Homo sapiens: one gene and its partners. The protein of the gene in region 1 purifies or fractionates together with the protein of each later gene. This does not show direct contact. Each region holds a gene or a part of one and is shown in the gene's direction. Other genes may lie near its edges. The genes, in order: LRRIQ1, ACVR2B, BMPR2 and NOTCH2.

The links.
Region 2: the proteins of LRRIQ1 (region 1) and ACVR2B purify together in Homo sapiens (affinity purification with mass spectrometry; 2 studies listed by BioGRID and IntAct, with this or other methods). This does not show direct contact.
Region 3: the proteins of LRRIQ1 (region 1) and BMPR2 purify together in Homo sapiens (affinity purification with mass spectrometry; 2 studies listed by BioGRID and IntAct, with this or other methods). This does not show direct contact.
Region 4: the proteins of LRRIQ1 (region 1) and NOTCH2 purify together in Homo sapiens (affinity purification with mass spectrometry; 2 studies listed by BioGRID and IntAct, with this or other methods). This does not show direct contact.

What each region holds. Positions count from the first base shown.
Region 1 is NC_000012.12:85,053,327-85,060,351, forward strand, and holds part of LRRIQ1 (leucine-rich repeat- and IQ domain-containing protein 1), read left to right. Parts: intron 1-2,220; coding exon 2,221-3,858; intron 3,859-7,025.
Region 2 is NC_000003.12:38,456,879-38,463,903, forward strand, and holds part of ACVR2B (activin receptor type-2B precursor), read left to right. Parts: intron 1-2,552; exon of another isoform or gene 2,553-2,696; coding exon of another isoform or gene 2,697-2,811; intron 2,812-7,025. UniProt on the Homo sapiens protein: Transmembrane serine/threonine kinase activin type-2 receptor forming an activin receptor complex with activin type-1 serine/threonine kinase receptors (ACVR1, ACVR1B or ACVR1c).
Region 3 is NC_000002.12:202,371,647-202,379,339, forward strand, and holds the start of BMPR2 (bone morphogenetic protein receptor type-2 precursor), read left to right. Parts: upstream 1-4,680; 5' UTR 4,681-5,828; coding exon 5,829-5,904; intron 5,905-7,693. UniProt on the Homo sapiens protein: On ligand binding, forms a receptor complex consisting of two type II and two type I transmembrane serine/threonine kinases.
Region 4 is NC_000001.11:119,912,663-119,919,687, reverse strand, and holds part of NOTCH2 (neurogenic locus notch homolog protein 2 isoform 1 preproprotein), read left to right. Parts: intron 1-74; coding exon 75-376; intron 377-1,134; coding exon 1,135-1,282; intron 1,283-1,925; coding exon 1,926-2,023; intron 2,024-2,993; coding exon 2,994-4,382; 3' UTR 4,383-7,025. UniProt on the Homo sapiens protein: Functions as a receptor for membrane-bound ligands Jagged-1 (JAG1), Jagged-2 (JAG2) and Delta-1 (DLL1) to regulate cell-fate determination.

The sequences.
Region 1 (7,025 bases):
GAAAAATAATTTCCAAGTAGGATAAATACAAAGAAAATGCTACCTTGGAATAAATAATACAATTATTGAAATTCAAAACAAAGGAAAAATAAAGTCTTAGAAGCATCTGGAGGATAAAAGACGCATTACCTAAAAAGGAGTAACAGTAAAACAAATAGCCATCTTTAAGTAAAATGATGGAAGAAAGAAGACGATTCAAAAAACGTAAGTATTCAATGATAATGGTTTCTTTGTTTATTAGTGTTCTTTGAATCCTGACTCTTCCTCCATTTTCTGGACTCAATTTTTAATTTCCTGTAGTATACACTTAAATAGTTGTCAAAAAACATTTTTGGATGCTAGATTTTCTCAATCTTTGTTTGCATATTTGAAAATATTTTGTTTTGTTTTTTGTTTTTTAAGATGGAGTCTCGCTCCGTCGCCCAGGCTGGAGTGCAGTGGCGCCATCTCGGCTCACTTCAAGCTCCGCCTCCTGGGTTCACGCCATTCTCCTGCCTCAGCCTCCCGAGTAGCTGGGACTACAGGCGCCCGCCACTGCGCCCAGCTAATTTTTTGTATTGTTAGTAGACACAAGGTTTCACCGTGTTACCCAGGATTGAAAATATTTTTAGTTTGCTTTTAAAAATGAATGGTCAGTTTCTTCGGGTGTGGAATACAGATTTATTACCACCCTTAACAATGTAAAGATATGACTTTGTTGCATATTTATTTTTGCCTGTGCTATCTATGATTGCAAATTTGATGCCTTTTCCTTACATTCTTTTGAAGCTTTAGGATTTTTCATTTTATACATTCATCCACACATATTTACTGGTTTTCTACTAGGTCAGGCACTTCTCTGAGTGTTTAAGATATGACAGTACATAAAATTGAAAATAATCCCTACTTTCAAATGCGATACACAATTTCCAAGGAGGAGAGATACAAAGAAAATCACACCTTGGAATTAAATAGTACTATTCAAATTCAAGACAAAGGAAAAATAGTGTTGGAAGCATCCAGAGGCAAAAAGACACACCACCTAAAAAGGAGCACAGTAAAACTAACAGCTTACATTCCCCAGAGGTCTGAAATATTGCTAGCATCTGTCTAAGTGTGTTGTGTATGTGTGCATGCAATGTTCGGTCTTTCTCCCATGGCTTTTTGTTGTTGTTTTTAAGAAAACGTATTTTTCTATTATTTTCTTCCCTTCAGTTTTTCTCAGTTCTTTATTCAGGAACTCCTACTAGTCATATGTTGGAGTTTCTGTGTTAATCTTCTTTACCTCCGACATATAATTTTTATCTTTGTTATTATTTGTTGTTTGGGGAAAACATCTCATTTTGAAGTTTTTTTTTAAGTAATCAGCTATCCAGCCATTCTATTTTGATTATTGGTTTAAGTGAGTCGTTTTTATTTGAACACTTGAAATATGAGGTTATTCCTGTTTAAATATTTTTTCTAAAATATCTTTATTTAAATTTTTATCTAGTTTATTTAATAGTTTGATTTTCTCAGAAATTGGTTCTTCCTTCTGCTGATTAAAATATAGTCTCATATCCTTTTTGTTAGTTTCCGTTAGATATTTGCTCAATTTTGTTGATCTTCTTACTTTTGGTTTAGGACTCTAGTAAAAATAATATTTTCTCACCTAACTCTAAATATTTCATTAAATGCAGTAGTATGTGGTTATCAACTATTTTGATCATTGAGAAGGGATAAGATATGTGAGTAGGCTGGTTCTGTATATTGTTTGTATGTAGGGACTATCTGGCTTTCTTGGTACCATAAGTTTCACAAAATAATTCCTGTTTTTGCAGTCTCAATACTAGCTCTGAGTCTTCTTTATCAGAACTCTCATTCCAGAAAGTTTGAAGTCCTTTTCTTTTACGTGGTTTTTAGCCTGTGGTTTCCCTTTTGTTGTTGTTGTTGTTTGCTTGCTTATTCTGTGTCTTTCTGATTTTATATGCTTTCTATCTTCAAGGAAATCTTCAATTCATATCTGGGTGGCTTAGAATACATGTAACATTAGAGTATCAACTTAACATGATTCAATCTCCTAAATATTAAAAAAGTAATACCCTTTAAGATAAATGACTTTAGTTTCTCTAAATAAATTTTATAGAAACTTTATTAAGACTTCAGTTTTAGTATTTGTTTTCAATCTACATTTCAGATGACATTTTAGTAACATCTCATGTTTAGTTTATGCTGACTACCATGTATCTTACTTTGTTTTAGGAGTATATTAGAAACTTGCATTTACAAATGGAAGAAGAAAGAACAAGATTTAAAGACCAACAAGAAAAAGAAAAAAATTCTTTGTTAAAACAGCAGAATAATGCAGCTGTTAAAATTCAAGCTAAATATAAAGCATTTGTTGCCTATCAAAAATATGGCCCAATTATTAAAGAGCAAATTGAAAGTAAGAAAAGGAAAGCACAAGAGTGGAAGGAAAAGGAAGCAAAAATACGACAAAAGGAGGAAGAAAATCGAAAAAGATTAGAGGAGGAACAAAGGATAAAAGAAGAGAGAAAAAAGCAAAAGGAAGAGGAAAGGAAAAGGAGAGAAAAAGAATATGAAGAAAAAAAGAATATTGTGAAACAGGAAAGAGAGCAACTAATAAGCAAGGAAAAAATAATATTAAGAGAAGATGCAAGCCAACAGCTAATAATAAGTAGTGCATTAAAGAAGAGCGGATATAATAACAAACATTTAAGTCTTGAAGATATTTCAAATGATAAGGGTGATATAGCCAAAAATCTAGTGGATGAAAATTCAAAGAAGCAGGAAGATGTTCTCCTTTGGCTAGTTGAGGAATCAAATATGAAAGAAAATGTAGATAGACAGACTATATTAAAAGAATCAATACAAGTAAAGTTAAAAGAATCTATATCAAGCCAAACAATTCTGGCAGATTTTAAAATGGAAGAAAAAAATGAAAACCTAGCAAAAAAACGATGTTCAGAAGAATTGGTCAAGCAAGAAAGAAAATATGAAAATACAGATAACAAAACTGAATTGGGAAACTCTGATCTAAAAGGAAATCTGAAAGAACAGTTTCCATTGCAAGAATTAAAGTCTGATGCACAAAAAGAAGAAAAAATCATGAAACATGTCATAAATGAGAATACAGGACAAAAAACCCAGATAATATTAGGACATAACCAAGAAATCAGTGAGGTGAAAACCAATGAAGAGCAGAAAATAATCAAAGATAATCAGCAGAAAAAGATACAAAAAGTAGAAAAAGAAGAGATACAAGAACAGAATGGATTATTATATAAAGATAAGGATACTTTAGTTATTTCAGTGAAACAAAGATCACTCTCACTAACATCAGAAAATTCCAAAGATGTAAGAGAAAACGTAATATTACAAGAAAAAGAAATTTATTCAAAATCCAAAGAAATTGAGGAGAACCCAAAAGACAATGCTTGGAATAGTGGCATTGTGATTTTTAACACAACTGATACCATGATAAATATAGAAGGCAAAAGAAATGACCAAGATTATGTGTTAGGTAGACATGCTCCTTGTGAGGGCTTGAGTAACTATAATGCAGAAAGCTCCATGGTATCTAAAGAAGTCAACTCTCTTAAATCTGAGATTAGAAATATTTCAGAAAAATGCCATGAAAATGCACCTGAACCTGATAGCATGACCTGCTGTGTATCAGAGTCAACCCTTCTATATTCTATTGAAGAAAGGAGACTAGCCTGGATAAAATCATTTAAACCTTGGCTTGAAATTTTCAAGCAAAATCAACAAAAGAAAATTGTTAGAAGAAAGAGACCTGTGAAATGCCCAGCCAACATGACACCCGCTTTGGATAAACTGGAAATTCTTCGATGTGGCCCTTGGGATACTTTACAGCAGGTATTTCTAATTTTATAATAATTTTTCACATTTAATTACAATTAGCTCTTTAAAGTATAACTTTTCAGATCTTAGAAAAAGAAATATTTTGTATACAAGAATTGTCTCTTGTTTAATAAAGTTATGAATGAAATATTACCCCATTTGGGAGGGGATATATCTCAACAAATTGTTCGAGGCATCTTCCCTAAGTGACACTCTATAAAAAGCTTTGATTTATATTTTTTAATATCTTGAAGCCTGTGTTCAAGGGCCCTCCAGTCATTATTTAAACCTCTAAGAATGGAAGCATATAGAAAGTTAGGGTTAGAATTATAGTAGGAAACTCCTAAGTAAACAGAAGTTTGCTTTAGACTTGAGCCACCACACCACCTAGTGGCTGCTTTTGGAATAAAGTGGATTTTATGTCCATGACCACTGTTGTGAAAGAAGGGCTTGCATGATAGAAGACCCTGAAGACCCTAGAATTCCCATCTAGCAACAATTATTTAGCGTGTGCTATTTAAAGGTGGTGCATATATGTCTGAAATGTAAAATAGTTGTCATCAAATGTTACTAATTTTATATGGTTATGGAGAACATAGTTTCAACCAAAATTAAGACACAGAAACTAATAAACGTATAGAAAAAGAGAAAATAATATTTTAAACAGTGTAACACTAGAAAGCACTTATGATTAAAATACATATATTTAGCTAAGGCCTGAAAGTCAAAAGTATTCAATAAAGTTTATTTAGTTTCTTGATAGACTTTCTTGCTAGACAGATGCCTAGGAGAAAGAACAATCATATTAATAGATAAACATTATTTTGTTTATTCACTCAGCAAATATTCATCTATCCAATAAGATGATCAATATTTATTGGTTGACTAATAAACAAAGAAAACCCAGTCTTTTACGGAGCTTAAACACACATAAATACGTTATTATGGATCTTGAGAATTGCTGTAAATAAGGCTTCAGAGTATCCTGTGAGAGAATAATAAAATAGTGGGATTTTGAAGATATTTCTGGTATATGAAATAGCAATATAAGAGATGAGAACTGGGACATACACTTTTAAGTGTCTTTTATTTCCTGGGTAATGTATTTGCCACATCTGTCAGGTCTGCAGAGCTACATATAGAATCTCTCATCTGCTCTTCTCCAATTTTTTCCTTGCGCATGTTATCTCTGGAATCATGTTTTAGCACTTTTCTTTCTCTAACATATTGCTGCAGGCCTTCCAATATGATAACATTAGCAATTATTTAGTTTTCCTCATGAGTATCTGTTAAAGCTAGGCAAGAGTGATGGCTTCATGCCTACAGTGTACTTGCTTCAAAAGTGAAAATGAAGTTACAGAAACAGTAGTGTTCCTCCCTTGCTTTGTAGGTCTCTGTTCTGTCCAATGAGAAGGAAGTTAAGATGTGTGAGCCTCTTTCTCCTTGGCATTTCTTCTCCAGCTGACTCTCTGTTCCTTCTTTCGAACGTTTGTCAATTTACATAAAATGATAATTAACTCTTTCTTTTACTTCTTAGAGCAAGGCCTGGCAAACTATTAAAATCTATAGAATACCTGAAGCTTTGTAGAAATGTGGATTCTGATTCAATAGGTCTGGTGATCCACCCATTCTCCATTCTTGCAATGATTCTAAATGATGATGTTGGTGCTGGTGAGTGGACTAATCTGAGTAGCAGTGTTCTAAAGGGCACCATAATCCTCTCATCCCTTCTTAAAGCAACTATCTCAAGCTTTTAATTTAGCTTTGAAGCATCAAATAGGCAGTATAAAGATGAAAAATACATGTGAATGTGCCATATAGATGCTAAAATGTTAAGAAAATATCATCTTTTGTTACCAGACAACTCCTGTAAAGATTCTGTTTGGTAGATGGCTTACCATGGTGTCTTTATTCACCACTGTTACTACTGATCCATGGCTCAGTTTCTTTTTGACTTTCTGATCTTTTAGCTTCAGATCTTTATCCTTATCCTGATCACTCACTGCCATCCTTGGGATGTCCTTCTGGAGATCAACTTAGAAAAGTTTATTGTCTCCCAGTAATGCATTCATTTTGCTTACATTAATCTCTTACTTTGAGACTTCAAGACATAAATCGGATCTTCGTGTTGTTCATACTTCTTTACACATTGCCAGGCAAATAAAGATACTCCTCAAGTTACAATGAAGTTACATCCAGATAAACCTACATAGCTTACAACTGGGCAAAATCATCTGGCAACGTGGTACACTGTAGAGTATTTGTTGTTTACCCTCATGATCATGTGACTGACTGGGAGATGCAGCTCCCTGCCGTTGCCTGACATTGTGAGAAATGATCATACTTTATATTGCTAGCTTGGGAAAAGATCAAAATTCAAAATTTGAAGTATGGTTTCAACTAAATGTCTATTGATCTCACACCATCATAAAATTTAAAAAAAATTCTACGCTAAACTATCTCTTGTCAGGAACTATCTGTAATGACTTTCATTACCTGATTATAGGATGGATGAGTGGGGGGATGAATCAATTGATGAATAAAGAATTCCAGTCGAAATATTTAATGTAGAGGACGGGTTGATGGGTGCAGCAAACCACCATGGCACGTGGCACGTGTATACCTATATAACAAAACCGCATGTTCTGCACATGTATCCCATGTATACATGTAACCTAAAGTATAATTAAAAAAAAGAACTGCAATTGAATGTTAATCTTATCTCCTCATTACTACCAGTTTCACAGTTTAGATAAAGTATATTGACTGAAGAGGAAATGAATGTAAAATTACTGAAGTGTAGCTTATTAGACTACTAAGTTCTATGTTAAGACTGTTTCTAATTTTATTTCTGCCACTTATGGCTGTGACACCTTATGCAAATGCTTGACCTGTATGAGCCTCAGTTTTGTCTTTCACAAACTGGAACAGCAATATCTATTATATAGGATCACTGAGTTTTAAAATGCTGTATGTAAAGAACATGGCCCAGGGCTTCTAATACCACTTGTCAAATGTGGGTCTCAAGCAAGCAAAGAGAAGGCAAATGGATTGTTTTCGAGGGCTGCTTAATAGCCCGTTTCATCAAAAAAGTTATAAAGTTGAAAATACTAGACCATTGGGTTATATGCAGTAATATCTCAAAAGAGAAGACTAAAGAGCAATAATTATGGGTAATGAAT
Region 2 (7,025 bases), on another chromosome or scaffold:
ACATTCTTTCCATGAGATGGAATGAACTTCAATAGTATATTTTACTGGCCTGGCACAGTGGCTCATGCCAGTAATCCCAGCACTTTGGGAGGCTGAGGTGGGAGGATCACGAGGTCAAGAGATCGAGACCATCCTGGCCAACGTGGTGAAATGCGTCTCTACTAAAAATACAAAAATTAGCTGGGTGTGGTGGCACACGCCTGTAGTCCCAGCTGCGCCAGAGGCTGAGGCAGGGGAATGGCATGAACCCGGGAGGTAGAGGTTGCAGTGAGCCGAGATCATGTCACTGCACTGCAGCCTGGTGACAGAGTGAGGCTCCGTCTCAAAAAAAAAGTATATTTCACTGAATTTGATATATACAAAGTAATTTCAGCCTGAGATCAGTATTAAAACGAGACATTTTGCATTCCATTTTTGTACTGTCATCAAAATCCAGTGTGTGCCTTACAGAACATCCTCAACTCTAACTTTCCACATTTCCAGTGCTCTGCAGAACATTTGGTTAGTGGCTACCATATTAGACAATGGAATCTCAGAAGGGAAGGTAGAATTTATGGTGTAATAAATGTCACATGGTGCTTGTCACAAGATCAGTCAGTGGTTAGTTGGTTCTTTAATAATTCTTCAAGTCTTTTGTGGTCTGTGCTTGGCCGAGTGTCCTTGGGAAACAAGCCATTTGGCTCTTGCATTTCAGTGGACATCCTGGACACTCAATGCTGTATCCTACAAGAACTCCTGACACCTGTCTCTGTACTCTGTACTTGGGGTTCAGATCAAAGGGCTTATGGGGGTGGGGTAAACAGTATTCTAAGTGAAGTGACCAGAGCTCTTGGAGAGGGACCTGCCTCCTGTCTATCCCATCAGGAAGTGCAGGCCCTGATTACTCTGATAGGCTGACCCAAAGAAGTTTCTTGGCCACTTCCTTGGGGGAGGGCGGAGGGAGTGAGCTCATGAAGTGAAGTGACTTTCATCCCTCAGGCCTAGTGTAGCGGTAGCTGCCAAGGACATGGGCTACAGAGCCATGGGCCGTGGGTGCCCCTCCCAGAGAAGAGTGTTTTCTGCTACCTGTCCTTGTATCTGCTGGGCACTCGAGGCTCTGCCCTGTCTGGGTGGGCTGCCTTTTGGGAGGAATGGGTATCCTCCCTAGCTCTTAGGGGCCCTTTCAAGGCAGATGATGTGAGAAACCTGCCCATCTTTCCAGGCCCTATAGCTGGGTAAAAACATAAGATCTAAACCCTATGGCCTCCCATCACTTGGGTGGGCCTCTACTGTGTACTACTCTGTGGGTCTTTCTGGGCATCAAGAATCTCCAGAAGCACCTGGACCTCTGCTGGCACTTCACCTAAGGAACTCCTGTTATAAGGAGCCAATGAAGAGCCCACATTCTATACAGTGGTCCTCCATGTCATAGACCCCTCTGAGAATCTGATGAAAGCTGTGGACCCTTCCTCCAGGAAAATGTAAATCGGTATATGTGTGCATGTGTGTGTACATTGTATGCACCCACTCTGTTTTGTACAGATACTGGGAACCTACTGCCCCCTGATTAGACTCCTTGAAGTCCTGGCTGCCCTGCACATATCCACTGTAGTAGTCTTAAGGGGCAGCTTGTTCTGCGGGGGAGGGGTGCTTTTTCCACCTTGGTACCTCACTTACTTTGCCTTTTGTGATCCTGCCGGATGTTCAGATTCTAGCCCTGGTCTCTCTTTCCAGAAAGCTGTCCTCTTGAGTGCCAGCCTATGCATTCAGCCCCTCTGCTTGGGAGCTCAGGGTAGTGCAAATGAGAACCAAGGAGTATCGGTTCAGGAGTTTAGATCCACTCACGGATACTGACCTGTCACCATGGATTGGGATCTGGAGGGTTGAGGACTGGGTCTGGATAATATTTTTGCTAGTGACTGTAGATAGACTCTAGATAGTCCTGAGGCAGGGTCCTGGTTGCATGGGCCTCACTGTAGAACAGGGTTTCTCAACCTTGACACTATTACATTTTGGGCCTGATGATACTCTGTTGTGTATGGGTAGTGGTGGGTTGAGCTGTTCTGTGCATTGTAGGATATTTAGCAGTATCCCCGCCTCTACCCACAAATTCCAGTAGATCCTCTTTAATCATGTCAACCAAAAATGTTTCCAGATCTTGCTAAATGTCCCTGGCAGAGGTGAGAGCAAAATCATCTCAGATTGGGAACCACTGATCTAGAATGTTCTCACGCTTTCAAAGAGGTCTACAGTTGTAAGAAGTAGGGGTAACGGCTTTTGAGTGCATATCCATCCCCCCACTCTGGATGCAGGGTTGGAGGTGAGGTTCTCCTCAAAGCCTAGGAGATTCCTGCTTAGTGAAATCTGCTCAGCACGTGAGAGTTTGGTTCAAAATTAGTGGTTCTGGTGTACAGCTTACCACCGAGGAGAATCCTGGCGTCCTTGAGTTTTCCCAGAAGTGGTTCAGGTTTCAGGGAGGCGGAGGCTGTGGGTGGCTGGGCAGCCTGCCTGCCCGCACCCGCCCACTCGCCTCTGACCGTTGCCTTAAGGCTGGCACTCAGCCTCTTCCTCCCGTACACGCAGAAATGCCAGGAAGTGCCTGTTGCTGGGGACTCTCTGCCTGCCCAGCAGCCCCTCTCTGCTCACCTGGGGGCCTCAGGAGCTAAGGCTAGCCCTGTCTGCCAAGCGGAGCACTGGGGTTGTAGCAGGCCGTGGGCATGCCCCTTCCCCTGAGTGGACCTGCCATGTGGCGCTCCGGGGAGCCGCAGAGGCTGTGGGCCTGGAGCCCCCAGGCCGGGGACACCAGGGCAGGTGGGCAGCCTCTCCCCAAAGGTATGGGTGCAAGTCTCTCCCTCAGGGTGTGGTGGCCAGATGGGAATCTGAGGGCAGGGCCAGGCTTCCTGCTGTGGACCTGGGGAGGTGTGGGCAGCGCTGCCTTAGACAGGCAGCCGACACTGGAGGCCCTGGTGGAGCGGTTGGTATCTGTGGAGGCTTGTCTATTGGGCTTGGCAGGCTGGCAGCCCCCTGTGGCTGCCCCCATGTTTATTTTCTACTCCTCCCCTGGCCTGCTTCAAGCTTGGCTAGGGAACGCTTCTGTGGGACTCTGTCTGTCTCATCTTGAACTCAGTGAGACACAGTTTGCTGCACTGGGAAGTGATTACAAACTGGACTCTTAGGGTGGAGGAAGCATTTTTCAAAGACCCAGTTTCCAAGTGCTCCACATCACTGGTATGTGAAGTGCTTGCTGAGGTTCAGACTTCCTAGTTCCATCTGTTTTTGGGGTCTTTACAAAGGGGACTTTATTTCCTTCTCAGAATTCTTTCTCTTCCTTCCCTCCGGTTCTATCACTAATTCTGTGTTCCAAAACAGACACCCACCCCCTTGTTCTGGGCTTTCTTTTTTGGTCTCTCATTCTCTACCAGACTTACGGGTCCATCCCAGCCCTAGAGGTGCCTATTCCTTGTGGTCCTGGGGGTACTGCTACTGAATGCCCAGGTTTTCTGGTGGTGGAAATGCTGCTGCCTTCTTCTGACTCTATTACATTGCTCAGTGATGTCTCTGACTAAGGCAGTGGTAGGTACTGGAAATCAATGGATAAAGCAGGCTGGGATTGTTCAAGGGTCAGCCATGTCTCTTCCCGGCCCAGGACCAATAATGGCTTCCCGCCTTCGGACAGCCCCATGCTTTCCCCTGGTTATTCTAGGCTTGCTGTACACATGCATGTGCCTTTTTCAGATTCTTTCTGGGACTGGCAGCTCCAACTGGGTGTTTTCATTCATGGACGCATGACCTCTGGAAGCGGGTGTGGAAAGGAAGCCTGTCCCACTGGGCAAATGTGAGGCCCTCTTCCCAGGGGAATGTTGTCTGGATGGGTCTGACCTGCTGGACAATGGGCCTTCTCCCTGGCCAGTTTCTGGGCTGGAGCTGAGGTGTTTTGTGAGGCGAGCTCATGCTCTTTGCATGTGTTCCTCTGCCGACTATTTCAGTTCCACTCTGACAACCAAGGAGGCTAAAATTAGTTCTGGAGAAGGAAAAGGAAGGCTGGTTGGAAACCCAAGCCCTTGGCTGGAGAATGGAGGAGGCTGCTTCCCAGGTTTGTGCCTGAGCATTTCGGAGGATGGGATGAGACCAGCTGTTATCCGTCCATCTGAGGAGAAGGAGGGGTCCCTGTGGCCTCCCAGACTTGAACCAATTAAAACAGGAGACTAACTTGGAAGCTGACTCTCTCGAGTGTTGATGCCAGGATATTTTTTCCTTCTGGCTTGTGCAGTGGCGCACAGTGTTTTCAGGTATGAGGACAATGCCTTTTAATGAATGTCCAGTGCCATTGACAACCCTCCTCCCCCTCCCCTCCAACTGGATTATGTGTCCGTTGATTTAGAAAGCATGCATGAGTTTTCCCAGCCTGGGCTGGCAACCATGGTTTAAGAACTCTTATTTTATGCACTTTTTGGGAATTTCCTTCTCACTGAGGTTTGATATTGGGTTAGAGGGGAGTCCTGTGGCCCAGGGCTCACACAAGAGGTCCCGCTTCTCTGTGTAGTGAGGGCATAGTGAATCAAGGCTCATCTGCTCTGGGCCTTAGAAACCAGAGGAGCAGAAGGGTTAGAGAGATGAATTCTGGTTTCTTTTCCCACCTGGCTGGCTCCTTCTGTGAACCTTCTGGCTGAGGGTGAGACCTACAGGGCTGTGTGGGAGTAGAAGGAGGGCCAGGGCAATGTAGTCCTATCTCCCCTGCCCTGAAACCTCGCATCCAAACCTCCCATCACTGAGAGGTTAGCCACCCTGGGGTATAGTTGGGGGAGTAGAAGTCACTTCCCCCATAACTAATTTTCCCATTTAAAAAAAATTTATTACTTTTTAAACAAGTAATATACCTACATTATATTGCAGAAATTTAGATGTTACAGATAATACTAGGGTCTCCTTTTATCACTTCTGTTCCCCATCCGAGGCCCCCTCCAAAGGTAATCCTTTTAAGATTGAGATGTATTCTTCCAGACATTTTTACTTGTGCATCTATAGAAATACTTATAGAAATAGAGAGGCTTTTGGCCGGGCGTGGTGGCTCATGCCTGTAATCCCAGCACTTTGGGAGGCCAAGGTGGGCGGATCACCTGAGGTCAGGAGTTCAAGACCAGCCTGACCAACATGGAGAAACCCCGTCTCTACTAAAAATACAAAAAATTAGCCCGGCGTGGTGGTGGGTCCCTGTAGTCCCAGCTACTCAAGAGGCTGAGGCAGGAGAATGGCGTGAACCCGGGAGGCGGAGCTTGCAGTGAGCCAAGATAGCACCACTGCACTCCAGCCTGGGCAACAGAGCGAGACTCCATCTCAAAATAAATAAATAAATAAACAAACAAATAAATAAATAAATAAATAGGCTTTTTTCCACCTAAAATGGTATTCAAGCATTTAATTGAAGTATAAAACATATACAGAAGAATGTACAAGTAATTACCATAAGTAACAGCTAAGAAGCATTTTCACAAATTGAATACACTGGTTTAGTCAGCATCCAAGTCAAGAATCAGAAATTTTCCAGCCCCCCATCCCCAGCAAGCCCTGTTTTGTTCCATTTCAGTCTCTGCCCACACCCACTAAGGTTAACTACTATTCTAACTTCTAACAGCATAAAATAGTTTCATCTGTTTCTGTGCTTCATATGAATAGAACCTTACAGAATAAACTGCTTTGTGTCCATCTTTTCCTCACCATGTTTGTGACTTTAAGCTATGTTGGATGTCATGGCTTTTTAAACTCGGAGATTTGCTTTGGCAAACTTTCTGATACATATGGATCTACTTTGATCTTTTTAATAACTACGTAATATTCTAAAGTTTAAATATAGACTACATTTTACCTAGTTTCTTACTGATGGACTTTGTGATTGTATAGAATGTATGCAGACTGTTTCTCAAGAGTAGATGAGAAAATAACATCTGGATCATAAGCACGTATGTTATTGGTTTTAATAGATACTGAAAAATGGTTATACCATTTTATTTATTTATTTTTTGAGGCTACCCAAGTGATGGCAGTGAGGGTAGAAGCTGGGTGATATGGCAGTTGGCTCTCTGCGGTAATCTGTGAACATCCTTCCTACCTCCACACCCCAACCCCTGCTGAAATGCTAGGTTACAGAGTTTAGAAATAGCCTGGTTTCATGAAGGGTGCGCGGACATGGGAAGGGCTCACTTCCACTGGCTTAATGTATGAGGAGACCTGGAGATAACCTCTCGTGCCTGTGTCTCCTACCTTGTGCCTGAGTCTCCTGGGTACTGTGCTGATGAGGGAGGTAGCACTGGACTAGCCAGGATGTGCTGGTCTGGGTTTGGGATGGAAGTGCATATGTATGTTCACTTACCAGGCTCTATGCTGCGTGCAGACTCTGAAGAGACTAAGGCACTTGTTGAAGGTCGCTGAAGAGCTCTGGGTAACAGCACTACTGGCAAGCCCACTGCATTTGACAAAATCTGAGTGTGACAAATTCTGATTTCATATGTCGTGATAATGACGTTGGGGGTATTGGAGAAACCTGTAGAAAAACTATTTTAGAGTCTGGTGAGAAGCTTTTCATGACAGAAGGAGCTCTGGTGAGTTTCTGTTCCTGGCTGAGTGTATGCCTTGTTCCCTGTATAAGTCTCTGCCACAGTTGGCAGAAGACTTAGGGAAGATAGTTTGGGATGACTTGTTCACCAAAGCTGTTGCTTCCCAGTCTTGTTCTTCAGCTTGCTGCCTACTCTTTACTGTTATGTTGGGATTCTTTATGTAAGTCCACTTGTCAGGCCCTGCTAATGGATTTAGATGACACTCAAGTTTGTGGAACTGTTTCTAGTACAAATGATACTCCAATCAGCTTTCCCACATTATACATATGATGTGCGCTGTTTGTGTCTTAGTCTGCTCAGGTTGCCATAATGGAATACCATAGATTGGGTGGCTTAAACAACTGAAATTTCTTTTCTTACAATTCTGGGGACTGGAAGTTAAAGATGAAGGTGCTGTCAGGATTCGTTTCCAGTGATTCTTCTCTCTTGGGTTGG
Region 3 (7,693 bases), on another chromosome or scaffold:
GTGCCAATGCACTCCAGCCTGGGCTACAAGAGCGAAACTCCGTCTTTAAAAAAAAAAAAAAATTTACTGGTTTTACCCAACTTGGCTAGGCAGTCTGTCTAATGCTGGATTTCCTACTCCAAGGCAGCATTCAAGGAGCCTAAATTATCAGTATACTTGAGGGACTTTTTCCCTAGATGTACTCCACTGAAGGAATCTTGAATGAAAAGCTTGCTGGGTTTGGGGGGTCTTTTAGGTGTACCTTAAAGTGTTAGCAGACACAGATTAGGACAATGCTGAAAGGCCAGCCCAGCTCCAGAATTCCTGCAGGATTGATTGATGCCTCAGTTGCAAATGTGTTGCAATTCAACTTCTCCCTCTGCCCAGTCTTGCATCCCTCAATCCCCACAGAGGTTGCTCTTGCCATCATTAGGTAATAACCTCCTGCATACAAATTTCAGAGTTTCAGTGTCTATTTCCTGTGAACTCAAGTTGCGATGGGTCCCCTGATGACTTATATCAAACATGTAACATGTGTGAGAAATAAACCTTTATTGCAATAAGATGCTGAGATTTGGTGAATGTTACTGTAATTTAGCCCATCCTAATTAGTACAGATGCCAAACCTCACCTGCATCACCAGTCCTTTGTTCTCAGCTGAGCTTGACTTACATTGTCTGCCTTTTGTCGTGGACAGGTTTCTTGCCAAGTCTTAATTCTGTTCTTTGATGTTCTTTCTCACTGTGAGTGAACAGCCATGTCCCAACTGAAATATCACAAGAAGGAACAGAAAAGGGAAGAGGGTACATATCTAGTTGTCTACCTACCAAGTCAGCGGCATGTGTTTTTTCTTGTGAATTTCCTAAGACCTTTTCTTTATGTTCTATATAATTTATCATACATTTATAACATGTACGGTAGTCCTCCCTGCCCCTTATCCACAAGGAACTTGTTCCAAGACCTCCAGTGGATGCCTGAAACTGCAGACAGTACTGAACCCAATTGCTATAAACTGGAATACATTTCTATTATGTCTTCTACCCACAAATTTAATGCCTTTTCCATCTTAACTAAGCACTTATTACACATTGTGGCCATCACTTTTGCAGTTTGAGGTATGGCAGCAAAACTAGCATGAATTTATTTTTTCTTCACAATTCAGTTTCACAGATAGATTTTTTTTTTTTTTTTTGCCAGAGTCTCTATCGCCCGGGCTAGAGTGCAATGGGCAACCTCCACCTCCTGCGTTCAAGTGATTCTCTTGCTTCAGCCTCCGGAGTAGCTGCTGGGATTACAGGCACGTGCCACCACTCCCAGCTAATTTTTGTATTTTTGGTATAGACGGGGTTTCACCATGTTGGCCAGGCAGGTCTTGAACTCTTGACCTCAAGTGATCCTCCTGCCTTGGTCCCCCAAAGTGCTGGGATTACAGACGTGAGCCACTGCACCCTGCCAAAGATTCATTGTTACCAGCAATCTTAGCAACCTCAGCCTATAATTTTTTTCCCTCCTTATTAAGTCAAGAACTCTGACTTTTTTTTTTTTTTTTTTTTTTTTTTTTTTTTTTTTTTTGAGACAGAGTCTTGCTCTGTCGCCCAGGCTGGAGTCCAGTGGCATGATCTCGGCTCACTGCAAGCCCCACCTCCCGGGTTCATGCCATTCATTCACTGCCTCAGCCTCCCGAGTGGCTGGGACTACAGGCGCCTGCCACCACGCCTGGCTAATTTTTTTGTATTTTCAGTAGAGACAGGGTTTCACCGTGTTAGCCAGGATGGTCTCGATCATCCTGACCTTGTGATCTGCCTGCCTCGGCCTCCCAAAGTGCTGAGATTACAGGCAAGAACTCTGACGTTTTAACTTACAGGAAGCACTTTACAGCTTCTGTATGGCTGAATTGCCAGCATCACTACTCTTGTGCTTTGGGGCCATTATTAAGTAAAACGAGGGTTAGTTGAACACAAGCACTTGGATATTGCATACTGCCACAGTCAGTCTGATAAGAGACTGCTACTAAGTGATTAAGGAGGTTATAGCGGATACACTGTACAAACCATGATTCACATCCCAGAAGGACAGTGTGGGATGGCAGCGATTTCCTCACAGCTAGTTAGTAACAGTACTCAATTTAAAATTTATGAGGCCAGGCGCAGTGGCTCACGCCTCTAATCCTATCATTTTGGGAGGCCAGAAGGGCGGATCACCTGAGGTCAGGAGTTCGAGACCAGGCTGACCAACATGGTGAAACTCCATCTCTACTAAAAATACAAAACTAGCCGGGTGTGGTGGCGCATGCCTGTAATCCCAGCTACTCAGGGGGCTGAGGCAGGAGAATCGCTTGAGTCTGGGAGGCGGAGGTTGCTGTGAGCTGAGATCGTGCCATTGTGCTCCAGCTTGGGCAACAAAAGAGAAACTACGTCTCAAAAAAAACAAAAACAACAACAACAAAAAAAAACACCACTTATTATTTCTGGAACTTTCCATGTAATATTTTCAGACCGTGGTTGACTGCAGGTAACTGAAACGGTGGATAAGGGGGAACTACAAAAAGGACACTTAATGTTTCTTGGAAAAAATCTTAAGCAAATAAAAATTGAATGATGAAGTACTTGATCTCAATTTGAGGAAGATAAAAGTGTACTACGAATTAATAAACTTTAAACTTTCTGCACCTCTAACATACTAAAATCCAATTTCTCTGAGTGCTAGAAACTCTCAGTTCTTGAAAGACAAATGGTAAAACAATACCGTTTCTAATTTAGACCTTTTGGGCAAAACAAAATACAGTAATAAAGCTATAAAGAATCGGTCGGGGGCGGTGGCTCACGTCTGTAATCCCAGCACTTTGGGAGGTCGAGACGGGCGGATCACGTGAGGTCAGGAGTTCGAGACCAGCCTGGCAAACATGGTGAAACCCTGTCTCCACTAAAAATACAAAAATTAGCCGGGCGTGATGGCGCCGCCTGTAATCTCAGCTACTCGGGAGGTTCAGGCCGGAGAATTGCTTGAACCTGGGAGGTGGAGGTTGCAGTGAGTCGAGATCGCGCCACTGCACCGCAGCCTGGTCGACAGAGCAAGACTCCGCCTCAATAAATAAATAAATAAATAAATAAAACCTAAATAAATAAAGCTAATGAATCAAAGCATATGCTCTTCGTCTTTTTAAGGGATTTTACTAGGTAGAATTTTTTTTTCTCTGTCTAAAGGGTAAACAGCATAAACATATTTCAACTAAAAAGAGTCTTAGAATCCGGGGTTGGTATTGCTACAACCCCTAATTATGGAAGATGTTTAGTATAACAGAACCAGTTTAAGGAATGTGGAGATTTATTTACATCAAATTCAGATAAAGAGGTAACAGCGGACTAGAAGAAGCAAGCAGAGCATGACTTAAGGAGTCTATCTATGACTGTATCTGTGGAACTGCCCTTAGCCACAATGAAAGACCAGCAAAACCAGCCTTCAGCATAACCCTCCTGCCTGGTAGGAGATGGGAAGGCCAGACTTCACCCCTCAAGATCGCCCTCCCACGCGCATTTTCCACCTCGCAGCTAAGAATTCAGTCCAGACTTCCGATCATGGCGCCACGCACGTCACCTTCTCCCCTCGCCGCCAGCAAAATCCCACCCACGTCGGCTGACCCCGCAGCGGGGTGTAAGGGCGGGAGGGATCCCGTCTCCTATACTGGTCGCTTGTACAAACCAGATCCAAAAAACGCACTACACAAATCCTTGGAAACTGCGGTACCAACGGGATCTTCTCAATTCCTTGAGTGCAAAATGATCCCACTCTCTATCCCGACACAACTCTAACTCCATTTTCCTTTCACGTGCCCTAAAAAGCCCTCAAGGCCCCCAGCCTTGGTGAATCCAGGCCCTCTCTCGGGGTGGGCACCGCGCTGTACGGACAGACGCGCGCACGCAGCGGGACGATTTATAGAATTAAAAGTCTTTTTTTTTTTTCTGGCTTCGCATCCTTGCAAATACTCAATATTCCTGTCAACTAAGAAGGCTAAGGGAATGGGCGGTTGAGGAAAGCAGGACGTCGATTACAGCGAACACATCAAAGGGGTGGTCTTTCCAATTCCGGCTTTTGTTTGAGTCAGAGGGGAGCCTGAGGAGGCCAAGGTCTCCGGTTCTGGGAAAGGCGGGTCCATCCGGATTCTTTGGGCTGCGGAGAGGGAGGTTCCAGCCCCGTGAAACAACAGAGGGCAGTTCTGCCCCTCGAGGCTTTCCTCCGAGAGTACTGAGACGGAGACGCCTCAGTCGGGAGAAATCCCGGAACTCGGAGGAGTCTGCTGAACGCCGAACAAAAGGATGTGGCCGTCGTCTCTTAAACAAATACGCGAATCCCAAGCCATGCACATTTGGAAGGCATGTGTATGTGTGTGAAGGAGAAAGGCCACCGCTGCCCACCGCAGCCCCACCCAGCCCTCGGCCATTCACCGGAGAGACGCGCTGCGGTGGGGCCTCGGAGCCCTCAGCCAGCCCCGAACGAGGGGCGGGGCCGGGCGGGGCCGTGAGCGCGCAGGCGCAGTGCGGGCTTCATCCCGCCGCCGGCGCCGCCGCCGCCGCCGCCCGCTCTGCACCACAGGCTAGAGACAGACAGGGCCGGGAAGAGCCGGAGACTGAGGAGGAGGCGGAGGCGGCGGCGGAGGCGGGGCGACTCCGGTGACCGGGAGCGCCGCAGACTGGCAGCTGCGGCGACTCCCCCCTTTGTGTCTGGTCTGCTCGGAGCCACTGGAAGTGCCTCCCGGAGGGACGCAGGGTGTCTCGCCGCCTCCCTGCCCACCCCCTTCCCCGGCTACCTTCATCCGCCCTCCCGCCGCCCCCCGCCCTCGGTCCGCGACGCCCGAGTTCCGTCAGGAGCCCAGAGCTGCGGGAGAACGAGGCGGCGGCGGCGGCGGCGGCGGCGGCGGCGGCGGCAGCAGCAGCGGCTTCCTCGGGGGGTTGTGATTCGCTCACAGGAGCCATTGACGGGAGAAGAGGAGGCTTTCTTGGTGGAATTTACCTCAGGCAAGATCGAGCCGCAGGAATAAAAAGCGAGGAAGGGAAGGGAGCGCCGCCGGGAGGACTAGAAGGGGCAGCCTCTCACACCCACTCCGCCTGCCGTCTCGGGGAGCCCGGACCGGGGCCGCGACCGCGACCCCTCCCCTCCCCCGCTCCTACCTCTCCTCAGCCTTCGCCAGGGCCTCCCCAACCCTCTCACGGTTGTTCTGCGAAGGCGTGGGGACTGTGAGCTTGTCCATGGAGGCAGGCACCTTTTTTGATCCAGTCAAGGAAGAGGATTTGTTGTTTTCGAAATCAGAGTGAAGGAAGCACCGAAGCGAAACTTAAGGAATCCTGCCTTCCCGGAGCCGCGGGCGATGCGACTAGGGCTGCCGGGCGCCGCCGCCGCCCGTCCGGCTTCGTCCTTCCCGGCAGTCGGGAACTAGTTCTGACCCTCGCCCCCCGACCCCGGATCGAATCCCCGCCCTCCGCACCCTGGATATGTTTTCTCCCAGACCTGGATATTTTTTTGATATCGTGAAACTACGAGGGAAATAATTTGGGGGATTTCTTCTTGGCTCCCTGCTTTCCCCACAGACATGCCTTCCGTTTGGAGGGCCGCGGCACCCCGTCCGAGGCGAAGGAACCCCCCCAGCCGCGAGGGAGAGAAATGAAGGGAATTTCTGCAGCGGCATGAAAGCTCTGCAGCTAGGTCCTCTCATCAGCCATTTGTCCTTTCAAACTGTATTGTGATACGGGCAGGATCAGTCCACGGGAGAGAAGACGAGCCTCCCGGCTGTTTCTCCGCCGGTCTACTTCCCATATTTCTTTTCTTTGCCCTCCTGATTCTTGGCTGGCCCAGGGATGACTTCCTCGCTGCAGCGGCCCTGGCGGGTGCCCTGGCTACCATGGACCATCCTGCTGGTCAGCACTGCGGCTGGTGAGTAGCTCCGGCCGGCACGTCCCGGCCACTGCCCCTGCGGGTGGCGAGGGAGGGAGCCCGCAGAGGCCGAGGCCTGTGCTTGCCCTTCGCCATGCGTCCCCCCGATCGCGGTGCAGCGGAGCTGCGACCCGGTGCCTGCGCGCCTGCCCCATGCCTTCCAGGGAAATCGCCTTTAATATTCTTGTGTATTTTCCTATCCCCACTTCCATATTCCCACCCCACCCCCCTTTACGGGGTGAAAAAGACATATTGGGTGTGGTATCTTGACATTTTTAGCTGTGAGGTAATGCAACGATTAAAAATAATATTTTAATCACCAGTGAACAGTGCTTATTATGAGATCTCTGGAAACAGACCTGTAGATTTTTAAAATTATTATTATAAAGAAGCGGTTTTGGCTTATAGTAAAAAGAACATCAACTAGAGAACACACACTTGAACCTTATTTTGAAATTTAGATCACTCTGGGAATCCATGTTCCTTTCATTATTCAGAAATGTTACCGAATGAATAGAATAAATGTTGAGGAAGCCAGAACTGTGAGATTCTTGATATATTGTATTATACGGTTTGATAACTTTACTGTTAGTCATCTGGCATCTATCTATTGGCTTTGCTGTCGAGACAACTTTGACCTGACATTAGACTTCTAGGAGATTTGACTCCGAAAGTTCTTTGACATTTCACTAAAGTCTAAAGGGTGGTAGTCATCCTTTCCTTTGGATATTTTCATTTCAGTTCTCAGAAACCTTAGGAAAAAGACCTTATCTTCTATTTGCAACTATTTTTTCAAGCAGCCTTTTGGTGATTTGCTTTTAGAAATTTTCAGGAGTGAATTCTACATATAACTCGTACACTTGGTTTATGATGGGCAAATGGATTGTGCTTTTAAAACGAGTAAAGGACCAAATGACCCTTTCGAATTACTTTTTTTCTTTTGATAAGTGTGTTTCACATTAAACAAATTTCTCATTGCTATGTTAGATACAGAGGTTACTTGCTTATTTTCATTTTGAAAGTCTGATCTAGGAAAATGCCGAAGAAAATTTGAAGTTTCCTTTTATGCTTTTGCTATTGTTGAATAATGTCTACTGTTGATTAATGTCTGTTAAATTGATGATAAATCTATATGGTTCTGTTAAAATAATTTGAACTTCTGAGTTTACTTTAAAACTGATATTTTAATATTTTTAATAATTGTAGTTGCTTTCAGAGTAAAAATGATTTTTCTCTAAATTTCTTTATATTGTGTTAGCTATTTAAATTCTCTAGCCATAAGCCATGTGGTTCCTGTAAAATATGGAGTAAAAGGCCTTAAACGTTCCATGAGCAGAAATCTCAGAACATAGGCTTTTCAATGTTATTTGTTATTCTTAACCTTTTTAGAATATAGATTCTCATTTATGATGACGTGCTCATAATATTGTGATCAGAACTGATAAAAGTAAGAGAAAAAGCATTTATTTAAAAATAAACTTAATTTTTGTTTGGTAATACAATCATCTTAGAATAGTGTCTCTTAAAAGGGAGAGAGTAAAAGAATCACTGCTTAAAAGTGGTTGTAGTCTTTTTTTTCTTTGGTATTGCATAGCACCAGATGACAAAATTTGTGAAGCTGGATTTCAGACCTGTAACAGTAATGATAATAGCTAGTATTTATTAAGTGCCTGCCATGCACCATCAGCTATTCAAATAACTTTACATATATTTTTTCATTTCGTCTTCATGACAATTCTATGTTGTAGGTTATTATCATTCCCCTTTTCCATAGAGGGAGAGTAAAGTA
Region 4 (7,025 bases), on another chromosome or scaffold:
ATAGAGCTGTTTCAACCATAGGGTTAACTACCTTCTCCTTCTTGAGTACTTTATGGAATTTTCCATTCCTACAGATGGCTGCACCCCATTGATGTTGGCTTCTCTCCGAGGAGGCAGCTCAGATTTGAGTGATGAAGATGAAGATGCAGAGGACTCTTCTGCTAACATCATCACAGACTTGGTCTACCAGGGTGCCAGCCTCCAGGCCCAGACAGACCGGACTGGTGAGATGGCCCTGCACCTTGCAGCCCGCTACTCACGGGCTGATGCTGCCAAGCGTCTCCTGGATGCAGGTGCAGATGCCAATGCCCAGGACAACATGGGCCGCTGTCCACTCCATGCTGCAGTGGCAGCTGATGCCCAAGGTGTCTTCCAGGTAAAGAACATGAGAAGAGTCACTTGAATAATAATTCCTATGGCTCTATAATGTTTTATCGTTTTTAAAGAATTAATATCTCATTGAATTTATTCAATCATTTGAGAGATTAGGGCAGGTATTAGAGTCATGCTTGGTAGATGGGAAAGTGGGAAAAGGGAGGCAGGCAAATTGACCTAGCTATATATAGGAAGATAGTGATAGAGCCAACTGCAGACAACACCAGTCTTTCTGATTATTAGTGATAATTTGTTGTGCCAAGATGCCTCCCAAATGCGTAGATTAGATGAGAGTGATAGCTGGTCCGGAGCCTTTGACTAGTATCCGCTACTTCTTATGGATTGGCCTGACTGTATGGGCTTCTAGCTGCTCATTGGCAGTTTTCTTGACCTGAGTTCATATTATATTCCCTGATGCCTGTTTATCCTTATGAGGAAATTGGAAGCATTCTGAATCACCTTAGGCTGTATCCTGACTGAAGTTGTGATATTTCCCCACATCCCTCTTCTTTCCTGAGAAAGTAGAAGGCTCATCACTTTACATCAGCCATTATTTATTGAGCATGTATTTATTTATTCATGCAACAAATATTTATTGATTGATCATGATAGAATCTTGGGCACAAAGATAACAAGACTTTCCCTCTCCTCCAGGAATCTACACTGTAGCCTCAGCTCTGATGCCCTTGTTTCTTCACTGAGTTTCATTATTTTCCTTCATCCAGGTGACTCTCTTTTCTGTACTTTCTCCTCTTCTAGATTCTGATTCGCAACCGAGTAACTGATCTAGATGCCAGGATGAATGATGGTACTACACCCCTGATCCTGGCTGCCCGCCTGGCTGTGGAGGGAATGGTGGCAGAACTGATCAACTGCCAAGCGGATGTGAATGCAGTGGATGACCATGGTAGGGATGAAAGGCAGGGATTTGGATTCTTACCTGCAAAGCATGCCTCTGACGAGGGGAATAGAGTTACGTGACCCTTAGAGAACTGCCTGAGATCCAAATACGTGAGAGATTCACTCATTCTTTCATTCATGCATTTATTTAACATGCTGAGCTCAGAGATCCAAGCCAGTAGGAGATCCCTAATTAAAATGAGGGATTTTTAATGAGGGTTCTTGGACCTCAGAGCAGATACATGAAAGGTGTTCCCATGTAGTTTCCTAGGCATAACACTTGATTTGAGGATTTATGAGAGCTGACTTCTCTAGGAGAGTTGTAGAATATTCTCAATATAAATTCTGACATGTAATATATAGGTTTTTATCTTCAGTATGTAACAGGGTAGATTCTGCCATGTAGGGGACATGAATGCCTCATACAAGTGATCCTTTCACCTAGAGGTCTTCTGCAGGCTAGGCAGCCTGTACTGAAGTATTTCTAGAACAGAGGAAAAAGAAGAGATTACTTTGGTTTTTCCTATAGACCCCTACAGAGAACTGCTTCCTGCTGATCTCTGGGGAGTTTAAGATTTCATTGTGCAAGTCATAGTGTCTTATACTAAGAGTAGGATATGTCTGTTTATAAAAATGTTTCTCCCCTGCAGGAAAATCTGCTCTTCACTGGGCAGCTGCTGTCAATAATGTGGAGGCAACTCTTTTGTTGTTGAAAAATGGGGCCAACCGAGACATGCAGGACAACAAGGTACAGTTTGTGGGCTCTGAGCTTGAGGAGGCTCATAGCAGTGCCTCAGTTATAAGCCCATTCCCGTTTCTCCTTACAGCTTCTCTTGTTATATGTATAGACAAAGATGGAAGCAGTTTGGGCAGACACTGGGTTTCGAGAGCTTGATGAGGATATTGGGCTTGTCCAGGCATGTGTCAGGATGGAGTTCTCTGCCCTCTCAGTACTCAGCTTGCAGTAGGCTGGCTATAGATAGCTTGGTGTAACTCTTTCTCTTCCCTGACATTTCCTTTTCTCCAGTTGTCTCTTCTGTTCATAATCACTTCTTTTTCTCGTTTTCTTTCTTTTTTCCCTCCGGCTGCTTTTTTTTCTGTCCTTGGATACCCTGATGTTTTCCTGTTTGATTTTTCTCCATCTGAGTTTTTTGTCCTGCTTCCTTCTCTCATTCATCTTCTCTCAGTTTTCTTTGTTTTCCTTATCTTAGTCCTTTCTTGCACATGTTTTGTCTCTTCTTTCACTGTTTCCCTTACTTTTCCCAGTTCTGTGCATGCCTTAGTTTTTTCTCTTCCTACCTTTCTTATTTCTAACTCCTTTTCCTATTATTTCTTATTTCTAACTCCTATTCCTACCTTTCTTATTTCTAACTCCTTTTCCTTAACCTTATTTTGATAAGCTCAGTACTCTTTTAAGTGAGTCTCTGGCTCAGGGGCATGCTTTATTTTATGAATTCCCAACTAAAGAGATGTTCCCCCTAAGGGGCAAAATTGTTTTTTTGAGGAGAGGTGAAATAATCTTACTTTTTTTATGTGTAAATCACAGATACACATTCAGTACATTGGTAGAGGCACAGCCTATCTGTGGTGTTAATATTTCATCGGGGAGATAATTAGGAAAACATGTCTAAGGGGGTGATAATAAAAAAGATTGAGAAAAACTGCTATATTCTCAAGAGTGTTATTAACATGTGTTCTGTGATGGGCCTTTTCTGTAGGAAGAGACACCTCTGTTTCTTGCTGCCCGGGAGGGGAGCTATGAAGCAGCCAAGATCCTGTTAGACCATTTTGCCAATCGAGACATCACAGACCATATGGATCGTCTTCCCCGGGATGTGGCTCGGGATCGCATGCACCATGACATTGTGCGCCTTCTGGATGAATACAATGTGACCCCAAGCCCTCCAGGCACCGTGTTGACTTCTGCTCTCTCACCTGTCATCTGTGGGCCCAACAGATCTTTCCTCAGCCTGAAGCACACCCCAATGGGCAAGAAGTCTAGACGGCCCAGTGCCAAGAGTACCATGCCTACTAGCCTCCCTAACCTTGCCAAGGAGGCAAAGGATGCCAAGGGTAGTAGGAGGAAGAAGTCTCTGAGTGAGAAGGTCCAACTGTCTGAGAGTTCAGTAACTTTATCCCCTGTTGATTCCCTAGAATCTCCTCACACGTATGTTTCCGACACCACATCCTCTCCAATGATTACATCCCCTGGGATCTTACAGGCCTCACCCAACCCTATGTTGGCCACTGCCGCCCCTCCTGCCCCAGTCCATGCCCAGCATGCACTATCTTTTTCTAACCTTCATGAAATGCAGCCTTTGGCACATGGGGCCAGCACTGTGCTTCCCTCAGTGAGCCAGTTGCTATCCCACCACCACATTGTGTCTCCAGGCAGTGGCAGTGCTGGAAGCTTGAGTAGGCTCCATCCAGTCCCAGTCCCAGCAGATTGGATGAACCGCATGGAGGTGAATGAGACCCAGTACAATGAGATGTTTGGTATGGTCCTGGCTCCAGCTGAGGGCACCCATCCTGGCATAGCTCCCCAGAGCAGGCCACCTGAAGGGAAGCACATAACCACCCCTCGGGAGCCCTTGCCCCCCATTGTGACTTTCCAGCTCATCCCTAAAGGCAGTATTGCCCAACCAGCGGGGGCTCCCCAGCCTCAGTCCACCTGCCCTCCAGCTGTTGCGGGCCCCCTGCCCACCATGTACCAGATTCCAGAAATGGCCCGTTTGCCCAGTGTGGCTTTCCCCACTGCCATGATGCCCCAGCAGGACGGGCAGGTAGCTCAGACCATTCTCCCAGCCTATCATCCTTTCCCAGCCTCTGTGGGCAAGTACCCCACACCCCCTTCACAGCACAGTTATGCTTCCTCAAATGCTGCTGAGCGAACACCCAGTCACAGTGGTCACCTCCAGGGTGAGCATCCCTACCTGACACCATCCCCAGAGTCTCCTGACCAGTGGTCAAGTTCATCACCCCACTCTGCTTCTGACTGGTCAGATGTGACCACCAGCCCTACCCCTGGGGGTGCTGGAGGAGGTCAGCGGGGACCTGGGACACACATGTCTGAGCCACCACACAACAACATGCAGGTTTATGCGTGAGAGAGTCCACCTCCAGTGTAGAGACATAACTGACTTTTGTAAATGCTGCTGAGGAACAAATGAAGGTCATCCGGGAGAGAAATGAAGAAATCTCTGGAGCCAGCTTCTAGAGGTAGGAAAGAGAAGATGTTCTTATTCAGATAATGCAAGAGAAGCAATTCGTCAGTTTCACTGGGTATCTGCAAGGCTTATTGATTATTCTAATCTAATAAGACAAGTTTGTGGAAATGCAAGATGAATACAAGCCTTGGGTCCATGTTTACTCTCTTCTATTTGGAGAATAAGATGGATGCTTATTGAAGCCCAGACATTCTTGCAGCTTGGACTGCATTTTAAGCCCTGCAGGCTTCTGCCATATCCATGAGAAGATTCTACACTAGCGTCCTGTTGGGAATTATGCCCTGGAATTCTGCCTGAATTGACCTACGCATCTCCTCCTCCTTGGACATTCTTTTGTCTTCATTTGGTGCTTTTGGTTTTGCACCTCTCCGTGATTGTAGCCCTACCAGCATGTTATAGGGCAAGACCTTTGTGCTTTTGATCATTCTGGCCCATGAAAGCAACTTTGGTCTCCTTTCCCCTCCTGTCTTCCCGGTATCCCTTGGAGTCTCACAAGGTTTACTTTGGTATGGTTCTCAGCACAAACCTTTCAAGTATGTTGTTTCTTTGGAAAATGGACATACTGTATTGTGTTCTCCTGCATATATCATTCCTGGAGAGAGAAGGGGAGAAGAATACTTTTCTTCAACAAATTTTGGGGGCAGGAGATCCCTTCAAGAGGCTGCACCTTAATTTTTCTTGTCTGTGTGCAGGTCTTCATATAAACTTTACCAGGAAGAAGGGTGTGAGTTTGTTGTTTTTCTGTGTATGGGCCTGGTCAGTGTAAAGTTTTATCCTTGATAGTCTAGTTACTATGACCCTCCCCACTTTTTTAAAACCAGAAAAAGGTTTGGAATGTTGGAATGACCAAGAGACAAGTTAACTCGTGCAAGAGCCAGTTACCCACCCACAGGTCCCCCTACTTCCTGCCAAGCATTCCATTGACTGCCTGTATGGAACACATTTGTCCCAGATCTGAGCATTCTAGGCCTGTTTCACTCACTCACCCAGCATATGAAACTAGTCTTAACTGTTGAGCCTTTCCTTTCATATCCACAGAAGACACTGTCTCAAATGTTGTACCCTTGCCATTTAGGACTGAACTTTCCTTAGCCCAAGGGACCCAGTGACAGTTGTCTTCCGTTTGTCAGATGATCAGTCTCTACTGATTATCTTGCTGCTTAAAGGCCTGCTCACCAATCTTTCTTTCACACCGTGTGGTCCGTGTTACTGGTATACCCAGTATGTTCTCACTGAAGACATGGACTTTATATGTTCAAGTGCAGGAATTGGAAAGTTGGACTTGTTTTCTATGATCCAAAACAGCCCTATAAGAAGGTTGGAAAAGGAGGAACTATATAGCAGCCTTTGCTATTTTCTGCTACCATTTCTTTTCCTCTGAAGCGGCCATGACATTCCCTTTGGCAACTAACGTAGAAACTCAACAGAACATTTTCCTTTCCTAGAGTCACCTTTTAGATGATAATGGACAACTATAGACTTGCTCATTGTTCAGACTGATTGCCCCTCACCTGAATCCACTCTCTGTATTCATGCTCTTGGCAATTTCTTTGACTTTCTTTTAAGGGCAGAAGCATTTTAGTTAATTGTAGATAAAGAATAGTTTTCTTCCTCTTCTCCTTGGGCCAGTTAATAATTGGTCCATGGCTACACTGCAACTTCCGTCCAGTGCTGTGATGCCCATGACACCTGCAAAATAAGTTCTGCCTGGGCATTTTGTAGATATTAACAGGTGAATTCCCGACTCTTTTGGTTTGAATGACAGTTCTCATTCCTTCTATGGCTGCAAGTATGCATCAGTGCTTCCCACTTACCTGATTTGTCTGTCGGTGGCCCCATATGGAAACCCTGCGTGTCTGTTGGCATAATAGTTTACAAATGGTTTTTTCAGTCCTATCCAAATTTATTGAACCAACAAAAATAATTACTTCTGCCCTGAGATAAGCAGATTAAGTTTGTTCATTCTCTGCTTTATTCTCTCCATGTGGCAACATTCTGTCAGCCTCTTTCATAGTGTGCAAACATTTTATCATTCTAAATGGTGACTCTCTGCCCTTGGACCCATTTATTATTCACAGATGGGGAGAACCTATCTGCATGGACCTCTGTGGACCACAGCGTACCTGCCCCTTTCTGCCCTCCTGCTCCAGCCCCACTTCTGAAAGTATCAGCTACTGATCCAGCCACTGGATATTTTATATCCTCCCTTTTCCTTAAGCACAATGTCAGACCAAATTGCTTGTTTCTTTTTCTTGGACTACTTTAATTTGGATCCTTTGGGTTTGGAGAAAGGGAATGTGAAAGCTGTCATTACAGACAACAGGTTTCAGTGATGAGGAGGACAACACTGCCTTTCAAACTTTTTACTGATCTCTTAGATTTTAAGAACTCTTGAATTGTGTGGTATCTAATAAAAGGGAAGGTAAGATGGATAATCACTTTCTCATTTGGGTTCTGAATTGGAGACTCAGTTTTTATGAGACACATCTTTTATGCCATGTATAGATCCTCCCCTGCTATTTT